Regions from separate parts of the Homo sapiens genome. Here regions 1 and 2 are each linked to region 3. Evidence: fine-mapped expression QTL. A gene starts in region 3. Each other region holds a variant in brackets. All regions are shown on one strand. Distances are from middle to middle.

Evidence for each region. PIP is the estimated chance that this variant, and not a neighbour inherited with it, causes the effect.
Region 1: its variant is the best candidate, but not a certain one, in a credible set for the expression of IGFBP3 in whole blood (INTERVAL, PIP 0.70).
Region 2: its variant is the best candidate, but not a certain one, in a credible set for the expression of IGFBP3 in whole blood (INTERVAL, PIP 0.82).

Annotation. Positions count from the first base shown.
Region 1 is chr7:46,717,905-46,722,143 of GRCh38, reverse strand. No RefSeq gene overlaps it. Among named protein-coding and RNA genes, the nearest start is that of SNORD151, 740 kb to the left of the region's middle. The variant A/G (reference allele first, on the strand shown) is at 2,542.
Region 2 is chr7:45,969,954-45,974,192 of GRCh38, reverse strand. All of the region lies in intron 1 of LOC102723446 (a long non-coding RNA gene), which reads right to left. Among named protein-coding and RNA genes, the nearest start is that of IGFBP3, 51 kb to the right of the region's middle. The variant G/A (reference allele first, on the strand shown) is at 2,241.
Region 3 is chr7:45,919,274-45,923,503 of GRCh38, reverse strand. IGFBP3 (insulin like growth factor binding protein 3) reads left to right here and starts at 2,232. Exons shown (of 5, transcript NM_000598.5): 1 at 2,232-2,766. The coding sequence starts at 2,364. RefSeq lists enhancers at 1,268-1,848, 1,849-2,429.

The sequences.
Region 1 (4,239 bases), 800 kb before region 3:
TCTGATTATTATAGCTCTTTTTACAAAGATGAGTGATTGTAAATAATGCAGATGTCCAACAACGAGAAGTAAAGCTAGAAACCATGCAGTGGAATACTATCCAGCAAGATTCACACATTATTGCAGAACTGCATTTAGTGACACAAAGGGATGTTGTGTTATGATTTTGAATAAAAACATGATTTTAGTTAAGAAAAAATCAAGCTTGAGAGGTTATGAATCTGTTCTTGTATTGCTATAAAGAAACATCTAAAGCTGGGTAATTTATAAATAACAGAGGGTTAACTGCTTCACAGTTCTGCAGGCTTGTACAGGAAGCATGGTGCCAGCTTCTGCTTGGTTTCTGTTGAAGCCTCAGGGAGCTTACAATCATGGCAGAAGGCAAAAGGGGAGCTGGAGTCTCACATGGCAAGAATAGAAGCAAGAGAGAGAGGTGAGGGTGGAAGGTCCCACACACTTAAACAACCAGATCTCACAGGAACTCGCTCATCACCAAGAGGATAGCACTAAGCCATTCATGAGGAATCCACCGCGTGATGCAAACACCTCCCACCAGGCCCCATCTCCAACACTGGGGATTACAGGTCAACATGAGATTTGGCAGGGACACAGATCCAAAACATATCAGGTTATATATTGAAATATATGGTATTTGGGCTAACTCAGGATTGTAGGTTTTGTGGTGGTTTGTTTTCTTCATTGGTTTCTCCGTATTTTCTACATTTTACCTGCACAAGCATAAAGATGTGCTTTATTTTTCTAAGTAAAGATCTCATTTGATAAGATATATTTTCTTCTTGAATCCTTAGCATGGCCCTATGTTTAGTTACCATTGTTATTCTTATTTTTACACACTGAGATTGAGAGTGTGGGAACATGCCTGGTGGTAGCCAAGCTGGGATGCATTAGACCCCTGAGCAGTCCTTCTCCACACTGCCCCGATTATGTAAATCCAGGGATGTGTCCAACAAGATCTGGTTATACTTGGAAAATACACACCAGGAAATGTAAAAATATTGGTGACAGATGGCAGAAGCAACGCCTCTGACTCCAGTTATCAGAAGATATGGGCCTTGTGGGTTGGGTAAGCTCAGCATTACTAATTTCCAACTACTGGAATATTGAGCCTGGAATGACAAAAAAAATTCAGAATTATTCTTTCACATACCCATGTTATGAGTGCAAAGCACAGGCTCTCCAGTCCAATTTTCTGTATCAAGACTTTCTTATGATGGTTGAGCGGGTTTGACTAACTCTTACACAGTCCATTAATCTCCTGGATATCCAGTTTCTGAAATTAATTACCATTTCATTCCATAAATGTCTATGAATTCCCTAGTCTATGTCAGGCTTTGGTGGGCCAGACACTGTATGCATAAACAGTGTTTCATTCTCTAGTCCCAAGGTGTTTGCTGTTTAGAGAGGCCCTAGGCATGTAGTGAGTTTAAATAATTACAACAGGAGGAAGGAACATATGGCAGCAATGATGTCCGTGGTGCAATGACTGCAGAGAAGGGCATGGAAGGTAGCAGATAAGATAGGTTGCATGTTCCAGGGTGATGTTTTCTCTTCCTGATCAACGCACAAGAAGACCTAGCATTTTAGTGTTTCTATTATGCACATAGTGTTATTCTCAAACTCAGCACACTCACACCTAAACTCATGATCCTCCTCACCCTCCACCCAGGGCTCGCTCCTCCCTGGGTCTTCACAAACCCAGGCATCTTCCCCTCTTGGCTGACTCCTGGACCACTGCCCTGTCTCAGGCCTCTCCTCAGTACAGCTCATCATGTGCCCACTGGCCAGAGTGAGATTCCTCAACAGGTAGCCATGGCTTATTTTCAGATGTGTCTTGCCTTCTGGGGCCATAAGGATATCGGCGGCAAACCACCATGGCACATGTATACCTATGTAACAAACCTGCACGTTCTGCACATTTATCCCAGAACTTAAAGCAAAATAAAAATAAATAAATAAATAATAAAATAAAATGAGGTATTAAAGTTTCCAAAAAAAAAAAAAGAATATTTGTAGCTTTTAGCAAGTAGGCAAAGGTGTTCATTTGTAGATTCAAATCTACCTTTCCAGCTTAGGACAGAAACTCTACAAATACTTGGACTTTTGGGATACTATATCCTGTCCCTTGGTTCTCTTGGGTTGAATACCCCATGCTGATGGGTATGCTGCTTCTTGTGAAAGGCTCCCACTATCTCTTATTGGCAAATTCCCAGTTATCCTCTAAGAAACACTCCACAATATTGTGTTGTGTTGCTCTGTAATGTAAACCACCTATATTGTTACAAATTGTTTGTGTCTCCGTTTGTCAGCTATGGTCTTCCTAAGCACAAAAGCATCATCAATCTTTATGTCTTAAGTGGTTAGCATAGTTGTGTACATTTAAAAAGCACTTAAAAATTGTTTATTGGCTGGTAATTTTAAGTACATTCCAAGACTAAAGAAAAGTGTGATTTAACAATTGGCTGTGGGGAAACTGTTTGCCATTGAAGTAAAAAAAAAAAAAAAAAGGAGGAGGGAAGGGAT[A/G]TGATGTGGATCCTCACACAAAACTAAATGCCAGATGGATTAAAGACTTATACACACTACTATTTTTAAAGTACAAGAACAAAGAAAACCTTAACTGACTTAAAATGAAATTCCAGCACTTTGGGAGGCCGAGGTGGGTGGATCTCCTGAGGTCAGGAGTTCAAGACCAGCCTAGCCAACATGGTGAAACCCCATCTGCACTAAAAATACAAAAATTAGCTGGGCATGGTGGTGGGTGCCTATAATACCAGCCACTTTGGAGGCTGAGGAGAATTGCTTGAACCCAGGAGGCAGAGGTTGCAGTGAGCCAAGATCGTGCCATTGTACTCCAGCCTGGGCAACAAGTGCGAAACTCTGTCTCAAAAAAAAAAAAAAAAAAAAAAAAGCTAGGGAATCTATTTATACTATTATGGAAATATGTCAAAGATATATTGTTAAGGGGAAAAAGAAAACCGTATAATAGTAAGACCATATTTGCTCAAAAAAACCCTATAATATGTATAAACCTATGTTCACATTTGCATCACAAATTCCTAAGATTCATAAGAACCTTAATAGTGGTACAGCAGAGAGGTAGGCTTTTGCTATTGACCATATACTCCTTTATGCTAGTTGATTAGTTTATGATTTTTATATGTTTTACCTGAATAAGTTAATGCTAAGAGGAGAAACATACATTTCCTAGCACCTGGTGGAAAAAGCGTTTTTTATTTTATTTTTATTTTTATTTTTTTTGGAGACAGGGTTTTGCTCTGTCACCCAGGCTGGAGTGCAGTGGTGCAAACAAGGCTCACTGTAGCCCCAAACTCCTGTGCTCAACTGATCCTCCCACCTCAGTCTCCCAAGTAGCTGGAGACCACAGGTATATAGCAACACACCCAGCTCTTTTTTTTTATTTTTTTCCAGAGACAGGGTCTTGCCATGTTGCCCAGGGTGGTCTTGAACTCCTGGGCTTGAGAAAATCCCCCACCTCAGCCTCTCAAAGTTCTAGGATTACAGGCGTGAGCCAGCACAATCTGCTGGAACGGAAATCTTTCTGCACTTGGTTACTGTACTTGTCTGTTCTGTCCATTGTCTAGAATGCTAGAACTTCTCTATCCTGTTTTCTTGATTAGTTTCAAATCATAAAACACATCTATACAATTTGTCAAAATTTTTCTCAAAACTACTTGAAGTAATGTAAAAACAACTGTTTTATCTGAACAGTTTAGAGAAAAATTTTAGCATAACAGGAAGTAGTGATAAATCAATTCCAAAACGGTGAAAAAACATAAGACATATCTATTTCTGGTAAAATCAATCATTAAAGTCACATAGAGCTGGGCATTTTTAGTTTTGCTCCTGTAAATATGTTATACCTATGACTTTTATATTTATGTATTGGAAACACATTTTAAAGAGCTATTATTGGTGGTGATGCATAATGTCCCTCAAAAATATACAAACACAATACTTTCCTTTTAGAATTCAATGCTAGGAATAGTTTACTGGTCCTAGAATTGGCTTCATTTTTTGAAAATAAGACAATGAGAAGTATTTGAACAAAACTGTTTTCCTTTTTGTTTTGGCTGTGAAGGTACCTAAAAGTGGTCAATTTGATATACAGCTATCATAAGGATATTTCAAGGTGACTGATACATTTATATCCCTTCCTTTACCAAAGTTTTTTATTTTCTCTTTTAACCATACTGCATATGT
Region 2 (4,239 bases), 51 kb before region 3:
AGCTCTATCTAAACAAATAAATAGGCTCTCCAGAATGAAAGGGGCTTTGTGCATTGTTCTGTTGACTTTGGGAAAGGAAAGCACAATTAACAAATGACCACAGAGGGGACACAGGGGGCAAGGGATCAAGTTGGTTCTCCAAGGCCAGACCCACGCCCAGGAGACAGTAGTGGATGCTGGAGAAGCAGCCGGTGGAAGCGGCAGCATCCCATCCATCTCCAAGGCAGGCCTCCCTAGAGGATCCCGGCAACTTTAAGTCTCCAGTTCCTCCTTGAGGGTGTAAGGACAGCCACGGTGCCTGTGGACGGCATTGCTGAGAAGATGGAATCACATGAATAAAATAACTGTGCAGTGGGTGCCTCCCAGGTCCTGATCCTCAGCAACTGGCTCCTCAGGATCCCCACCTGGCCAACAACCTAAGGGTTCGGTTCTGGCGTGAGTGCTGATAGGCCCTCACTTTTCTGAGTCTCCCAAAATCTACGTCAATGTCAAATGGAAGTTTTAGTCATAGTAATAATAACACTAGAACCCACTCGAAGGTGCTGCAGTGTAGTTTAAATGAGATGCTGCAGCATGAAATTTTCTCTAGAGTAAAAATGTAAAGCATTGCATTTATTTTAAATAAAAACGTATTACAGAACAGAATACAAACTATGTGTCCGTTTTTGAGATGAACCGTGATAATTCCAGCTCTGTGTCCACTCCCCCAGGGTGTACAGGGAAAATGTTCCAGAATATTCTGTGCTTAGCTCAGGACTCTGTGAGGTGGGGGAGCTTCTGGGGGTGGGGGAGCCCCAGGACAGCAGAAGCTGCAGTTGGTGTTTCTCAAGGCCCCTCGGGACCGTCTGCTGTGGGTGGCATCCACGTCTATGCTCTTTTCCGAATGAGAAAAGCGCAGGTGGAAATGGGAAAGGTGCAGGAAGACACCGAGTGGAAAGGAAATCAGGCAGCTCCTTCAGAAAACAGGAGAGTTACTTCCTCTGGCTCAGCCCTCTTCACTCACACCCACATCCTGGGTCTCACCTCCGAAAAGACTCTTGGTCACAAGTGACCTGGGGTGTCTGCCCAGTTCTGCACCGACACCAACAGCCACCTGCCCTGTCCCAGCTTCTGTCTTCCCCCTCCACTTGTCTTCCCCAAATGCAGCCTGACCACGCCCTCACTTGTTCCACAGCTCTCCAGGGCCCCATAAACCAGCCATAGGGCTGCCTGCATTCCCCCTGCCCACAGGGGCTTGTGCCTCCCCAGCCAACTAGCACCTGACATTCCTACATCCCAGCCGCACAGTCGCCCTGCCTGGGGACTGAGCCCAGCCCACACCGTGGGTGCTCTGTTCCCACGGTTTCCCTCAGCCCCAAGCTGTCACCATCATCCTCTGTGGCCGTTCCACATCCTGGGCTGGACCTTGTCTTTGGTCTCACGGACCTTGGGTCCAACCATGCAGGAAATGAACAAAAGATGCTTTCTCATATCAGGAAGATAACAAGTGAGGCCAAAGATCATAAATCAGAGGGTAGGGGAAGGGAGTGGCAGCCAATGTGAATGGGGTGTACTGAAAGGCCTTTCCTAAGACTCAGGTGTTTCACATGGCTATGAGGTCTGAGACCCCACCCAGCTGGGAATATCTCTTGGGCCCAAATCCCATGTGCCCTTCAGGGCCCAGCCCAAAGACTACACCCCTCAAATTCATTGTTCTTTTTTCTTTATTTATTTATTTCTTTTTTTTGAGACGGAGTCTCCCTCTATCACCCAGGCTGGAGTGCAGTCGTGCGATCTCAGCTTACTGCAACCTCTGCCTCCCGGGTTCTAGTTATTCTCCTGCCTCAGCCTCCCAAGTAGCTGAGATTACAGGTGCACACCACCACACCTGGCTAATTTTTGTATTTTTGGTAGAAATGGGGTTTCACCATGTTGGCCAGGCTGGTCTCGAACTCCTGACCTCAAGTGATCCACCTGTCTCAGCTTCCCAAAGTGCTGAGATTACAGGCATAAACCACCACACCCAGTGAAATTCATTCTTCTTAACCCACATTTCACCACAGTGAGACAGGAAAGGATGGCACCCAGACGCTATTGGTGCACATAGCGTAACCTTGGGAAAGCCAGAGCTGGCTGGCTTAGGGGACAAGCCCCTGGCCACAGGGGGATGTTCTCCAGTATTCTCACTCTCATTCGTGCACTCAACAAGCAGTTTCTGGAGCCCACCCATGCCAAACGCTAGGGATACAGTGTCCTGGACA[G/A]ATGGGCTCCCCGTGGTGCTGAACTCTTTGTGGAACAGACAAAGAGGGAACAAAGCAAGTAAATTTCAAAGGCAGGTACAGATATAAAATGATGTAAGTACTTTAAAAAGAAATCTCTGGGACCTGATGATTCAGAGTGAGGAGGGTGACTTCCCTCAGGGACATACCAGGGAAGGCCTCTCTGAAGAGGGCTGGGAAGGGACCCTGAGGGAGGAACATGCTGCAAGATGGGTCTAGGACACCCAGGGAGCAGGGAGGGAGGCAGGCAGGAGCCAGGCCTGTTGACCACATGAGAGTCGAGATTTCATTCTAGTTTCAACAGAAATCTTCCAAAGAGCGTACCACAAAGGAGCAATGCTGTAGCAAAAGTTTGGGGGAGAGAAGGTAAAAAGAGTGGGTGAATTGAAGGACTGAGCAATAAAGGAATGGGCCTAGATATAAAGGTGAAGGCCCACGTCTCTTGTTTATGTGTTTCTCCTGGTTGGTGATGGATTCACTCTCTGAGGGAGGAGTTCTTTCATCCACCCCAAGGCTGGAAGCATCTCCAAATCGATGACCTTGCGGCTTTAGGACCACAGAGAAACATATATGCCCCACGCCAGCTCCAGATGCAGTCCCAGGGAAGGATTGCCTTTGGCTTGGGATGGGTCATGTGCCCAGGCCCAGACCTTAGCAAACCATGCTAAGGACTGTAACTGGCAGCTCACACCCAAAACCGTGCTTCTGGAAGGTAGAGAGGAGTGCCTTGAAATAAAGGGGTCATTTTTCTGTGCAGACAACATTGCAATCTCCCAGAAGTGCTGATGAAACTGAGCTCTGAAGGGAAGAAGAAATCTGAGTTTCCAAGGAGCAGAGGTTTAAGAGACGTGGAGTCTGTAGGCAGACAGCTTTCACTGAATTCAAATGAGAGATTGAACTAGGATAGTTTCTCACAGAAATAGGAGAAACAGACTGGATAAAGGAAATGAAATAAAAAGCAAAGTAAACAGAACTGGAGGAAGAAATGAGAGCTTCAAAAACTTCAAACTGAGAAGGGCAGAGGAAAAGAGAAGCCACACTCAGGATCCAGGTGAATGTGGATGGTGCCCACAGTTCCTCTGTCTCAATGTCAGCTCTCAGGTCAGCACCAGGAGCTCAGTCATTTCCATGTGCAAGAGCTGAGACCTTCAAATCTAAAAGAGGTCTTGCAATCTGTGCCCAACCGTGCTCATTCTGAGTGGAATGAGAATTCCACACTCCAACCCAAACCCAGTGAGCCTTTAATGGCATATTCTTAAGCGGCAGACTTGGATTCAGGGCAGGAAATGCCATCTGAGCTTATAAAGCCTTCAGCAGAGGAATATCAGCTCTAGAAACCCCAAACAGAAGCAGGCCTGGCCAAGCTAGAGACCTACAGATGCAACACACCATGGGCTAGAATTTTTAGCACAAAGGGCACTTTTATCACAAAAGGCTAGAAAAACAGTCCTGTCCATTTTTAGAAGTCTATCAAAATATCCTGTCAAAATGAAACAAAATACAATAATAAAAAATTCATAGCAGCAGGGCATGAAGATGAGGGTCTAAGGCAGCCCAGGAGGCCACCCACACACCAGTCTCCGAGTGTCCTTGCCAAATCTCTCTCTGGACATTCCCTCAACCCAACCAATTCTCCCCAAGTCCAAAACACAGCCTCTGCGCATCCTTCCCAACCTCTCCTCTCCCTCACTCTCTAGCTTGCAAACTCCTAGTTACCTTCAAGGCCAGGCCCAAGTGTCACTGGGTCTCGGCAGCCTTCCCAATGCCCCAGGCAGGCACAACCACCCCCTGCCTGGGCAGCCACACCAGTCTCTCTATACTGCTGATCTCCCAGCCCTGACCTGAACGAGTACCACCTTTTGCCATGTGCCCTGCTGAACGTGGGCTCCTCCCAACTAGGGCTCTGTGCCTGGGCTCTGGCCCGGAGCCCCATACACTCCAGACTGGGTAAATGTTGGATAACTATTTGGTGATTGATACA
Region 3 (4,230 bases):
AAAACATTGTTATTGGAATAGCCTTTGAAAGTTGAAATGTGACTTAGTCTTTACGTGTGTCCCGTGGTCCCTGAGGCCGGGCTGGACGCCTGGAGCTTTGGCGCCCCCTAGCCATTCGGCACTGAACAAGTTTCTCCAACTGCAATGCGAGGGAAAAAAGAAGAGAACCAAGAATAAAACAAATTTTTTAATCCTTTCCAAAAAGACATTGTTTCTGATCTTCCCCTGTCCACTCTCCAGATGATAAAGCTGAATAAAAAGTGCTACACTAACCAGTGGTCAGTCCAGGCTCTGCTGCAACATTGCACTAACCAGAACTGCAGACCTGGGACCTCAAGAATTGCATTTGATGCCGAACCCAGCTCTAATTTCAGAGTCAAGGTCTCTGCGAGTATTTAAGGAACGGATGTAAACCTGGGGGATTCGTTTTGTTTCCTTCAATTTTCCAATGAAATCAGAGATCCTGTTCTTGGGTGTCAACGCAGATACTAGAAGGAGGTGATACAAGAGAAAGGAAACAGCAAGCGACGATTATGGCACGGTTTCCTGTAAACAAGGTTGAGTGTAGCCACAGCCTGAGCACTGTGGGAGAAGAGCTCATAAGAAAATGACGGTGCTGGGCCTTCGTCACCCCGGGGCACTCCATTGTTCTTGTCTTTGGTCTCTTTTTATTTGTAGAGGTCCAATTATTTATTTATTTAGTACAAGAGGGAACGAAATTGATCTTTCCATTCTAAAAGGAGAGTATATATGTATAAAAGGAAGCTGTATAGATATGGGGGAAGAGGTGGACAGGGGGAAAAGGGGAGAGGACGAGAGAGAGAAAGGGAGGGAGAGGGACAAGGAGAGACACTGGGCGAGAGATCGATTAGGAGAGACAGAAATGATGAATGAAGATTAACTTCACCCAAGGCTTCGTGCTGGAGGGGAATGGAGGAGCTCCTGATTTGCTATTACTACTCCAAACTGCAAAGGGCTCCTTCAAGTCACCTATCCACCTCCTAAGGCAAGCGTCCAATTTCAACAGCGTTCAGGAAAGTCTCCTCCCGCGGAGGTCTCACCGCTTCCCACTCCACCCCCACAAACTCTTTGGAAAAGTGCCTTGAAAAATTTAATCCTCAATCCAATCCTGGACCACCAGCGTCCTCTGTTGGTCACCGAAGGGAGGGGGTGCGCAGACAAAACTGAAGAAACTCGAGTGCCAGAGAAGGCCGACAGGAGTTACAGCGACCTCAGCGCGCAATTGCGCCCCCGAACTTTACTGAAAAGTGTTTAGATTGCAGAGATAAGCTAGAATCCCAACGCATCGAGAATACAGTAATACGAAGTCGCCTTCAAAAAATGACAATGAAAATTGCCTATTAAAGGACTATTTGGTTAATTACGTTTCAGCAGTGCCCAGTTTATTGTCTTTATTATTCTTTTGTCATGGGTGTAAACTCCATTTGAAAACATAATCAGGGAGAATACCCAAGACAAGAAGAACAGTTGTCATTTAAAATATTTGAAAAGCCCTGCCTTAAGGACGCATTCGCTTGCCGGTCCACTCTTAATTGGAGACTTGCGGTGTAGCAACACGTGAGAGTCTTCTTGCGTTGAGAAGTAAGCCTGGAAAGGGGCGAAGGCCCCGGGCGCATCTTCAGATGCGTATTTGTGGGCCCCTGGGGATATAAACAGCCCAGCGGGTGTAAATTAAACCCCGCAGTGCCTTGGCTCCCTGAGACCCAAATGTAAGTCAGAAATGTCCCAAGACTTCGCCTGCCAACGGAATTAAATTTTAGAAAGCTCCACGAGGTACACACGAATGCGGAGCGCTGTATGCCAGTTTCCCCGACACCGGCTCGCCGCAGGGAGACCTCACCCCGAGAGCGGAAGGGGTAAGGGCGGCGGGGTCAAGGAGATCGGGGGTGCTGAGTTGGCCAGGAGTGACTGGGGTGACCGGGGGTGCTGAGGTGGCCTGGAGTGCCGGGGTGGCCGGGCACACCTTGGTTCTTGTAGACGACAAGGTGACCCGGGCTCCGGGCGTGCGCACGAGGAGCAGGTGCCCGGGCGAGTCTCGAGCTGCACGCCCCCGAGCTCGGCCCCGGCTGCTCAGGGCGAAGCACGGGCCCCCGCAGCCGTGCCTGCGCCGACCCGCCCCCCTCCCAACCCCCACTCCTGGGCGCGCCGTTCCGGGGCGTGTCCTGGGCCACCCCGGCTTCTATATAGCGGCCGGCGCGCCCGGGCCGCCCAGATGCGAGCACTGCGGCTGGGCGCTGAGGATCAGCCGCTTCCTGCCTGGATTCCACAGCTTCGCGCCGTGTACTGTCGCCCCATCCCTGCGCGCCCAGCCTGCCAAGCAGCGTGCCCCGGTTGCAGGCGTCATGCAGCGGGCGCGACCCACGCTCTGGGCCGCTGCGCTGACTCTGCTGGTGCTGCTCCGCGGGCCGCCGGTGGCGCGGGCTGGCGCGAGCTCGGCGGGCTTGGGTCCCGTGGTGCGCTGCGAGCCGTGCGACGCGCGTGCACTGGCCCAGTGCGCGCCTCCGCCCGCCGTGTGCGCGGAGCTGGTGCGCGAGCCGGGCTGCGGCTGCTGCCTGACGTGCGCACTGAGCGAGGGCCAGCCGTGCGGCATCTACACCGAGCGCTGTGGCTCCGGCCTTCGCTGCCAGCCGTCGCCCGACGAGGCGCGACCGCTGCAGGCGCTGCTGGACGGCCGCGGGCTCTGCGTCAACGCTAGTGCCGTCAGCCGCCTGCGCGCCTACCTGCTGCCAGCGCCGCCAGCTCCAGGTGAGCCGCCCGCGCCAGGTGCGCTGCGTGCAGCACCCGGCGCACTGGCGCCGAAGGGCCTGGGGGTTGCTGGGTGCCGCTGCGGGAGACTCCGCTTTTCTTCTCACTGGAGATAATATGTGGGGAAACTGAAGGCGCTCCGGGAAAGGTGAAGGCGGTCGCCGGAGGGACCCTCCCCAGCCGGCCCTCTACTTGCTCGATTCTCTAAGTGCAGAGTACTTGTAAATTGCAAAGCGCTTTCAGTGAAAATGGGTTAAAGGTTTCCGGAGCTGAGGGGAGCGGTACCGATGTTTAGCTGTTGGAAAGATCCTGGACACAGGAGATTCTCCTCGCCCCGCACGGGGGTGCACACGGACTGCAATCCCAGGGATGCTTGGGGATGGGGGGGATATAGGCGGATTTGGACCAAGGAAGGTGGGCAGGCACGTTGTAGGAAATAGTACCTCTCTTTTAAAATACTGACTTTGCACAGCCTTTTGGTTTGCAAAGCAATGTCTAGTCCCGGTATGTCCAAAAACAAGTAAAGTGGATTCGGGTTTTGATATCTTCTGCGGTTGGAAAACCTGAAGCTGAAAAAGAAGTAACTTCTTAAGGTTACCCAGCGGCCACAACAGAGTGTAGGTTTGAACTCCGCGTGCCACTTTCAGTACCATACCATTCTTACAACTCGGGCCACCCCTGCACCTGCGCCGACCTCAAACAAACTTCCAGGTGCGTGGTGGGTGCGGGCAATGTGGACTAAGTCAATTTCAATGACACGGAAGGGAATTGGAATCAGTCCTAGGGCTGTCTCCCTTCTTAATCTGAAATGGGGGGGGGAATGAGATGTTGTTAAGGGGAGCCCCAGAAGAGGAAAAATGCAAACATTTGGCAGAGTTACCCTCTTGGCTTAGCCACTATCAGTATCAGGCAGACAGCGACTCTGGTAAGGGCATCACATTGTTCCCTTAAAAAAAGGAGCGGGGGTTGTTTAAATGGATTTGGCAGCTGTTCTTTCAAGCATTCTTAGCCAGCCTCACCTAGTTATATGAGAAATAAAGTTCCTGCCTTGCACAGCTGAAGGCTGGGAGAATTCTCCCCATCCTAATTCCCCCAACTCCCCAACGATCACGTTGGACAGATGTCACTGGGCAGGCCCCCATCTAGGGCTAGCAGGATGAACAGTCCCTTTATAATTTATGTAGCTGTAGAGTTCCACGCCCGGGTGAAGTTATTTTCTGGCTCGGCAAGGCTGGCTCTGTTCACCCCTGAGAAATGCTGGATTCATGGAAAGGCAAGATGCCTGAAACATACACTGGCTCTGGTCAGCTGTTAAAGCTGCTGGAGGCATTTGTCTCTCGGGGCAAAGTTATGTCATTTGCCAAGTGTCGTACATTATTGTGCATTTTGGGGTATTCAAAAAGTGATCTTAGAAATACTGATACACATCGTCATTCTTGGGCTTTAGCAATCATCATGATTACC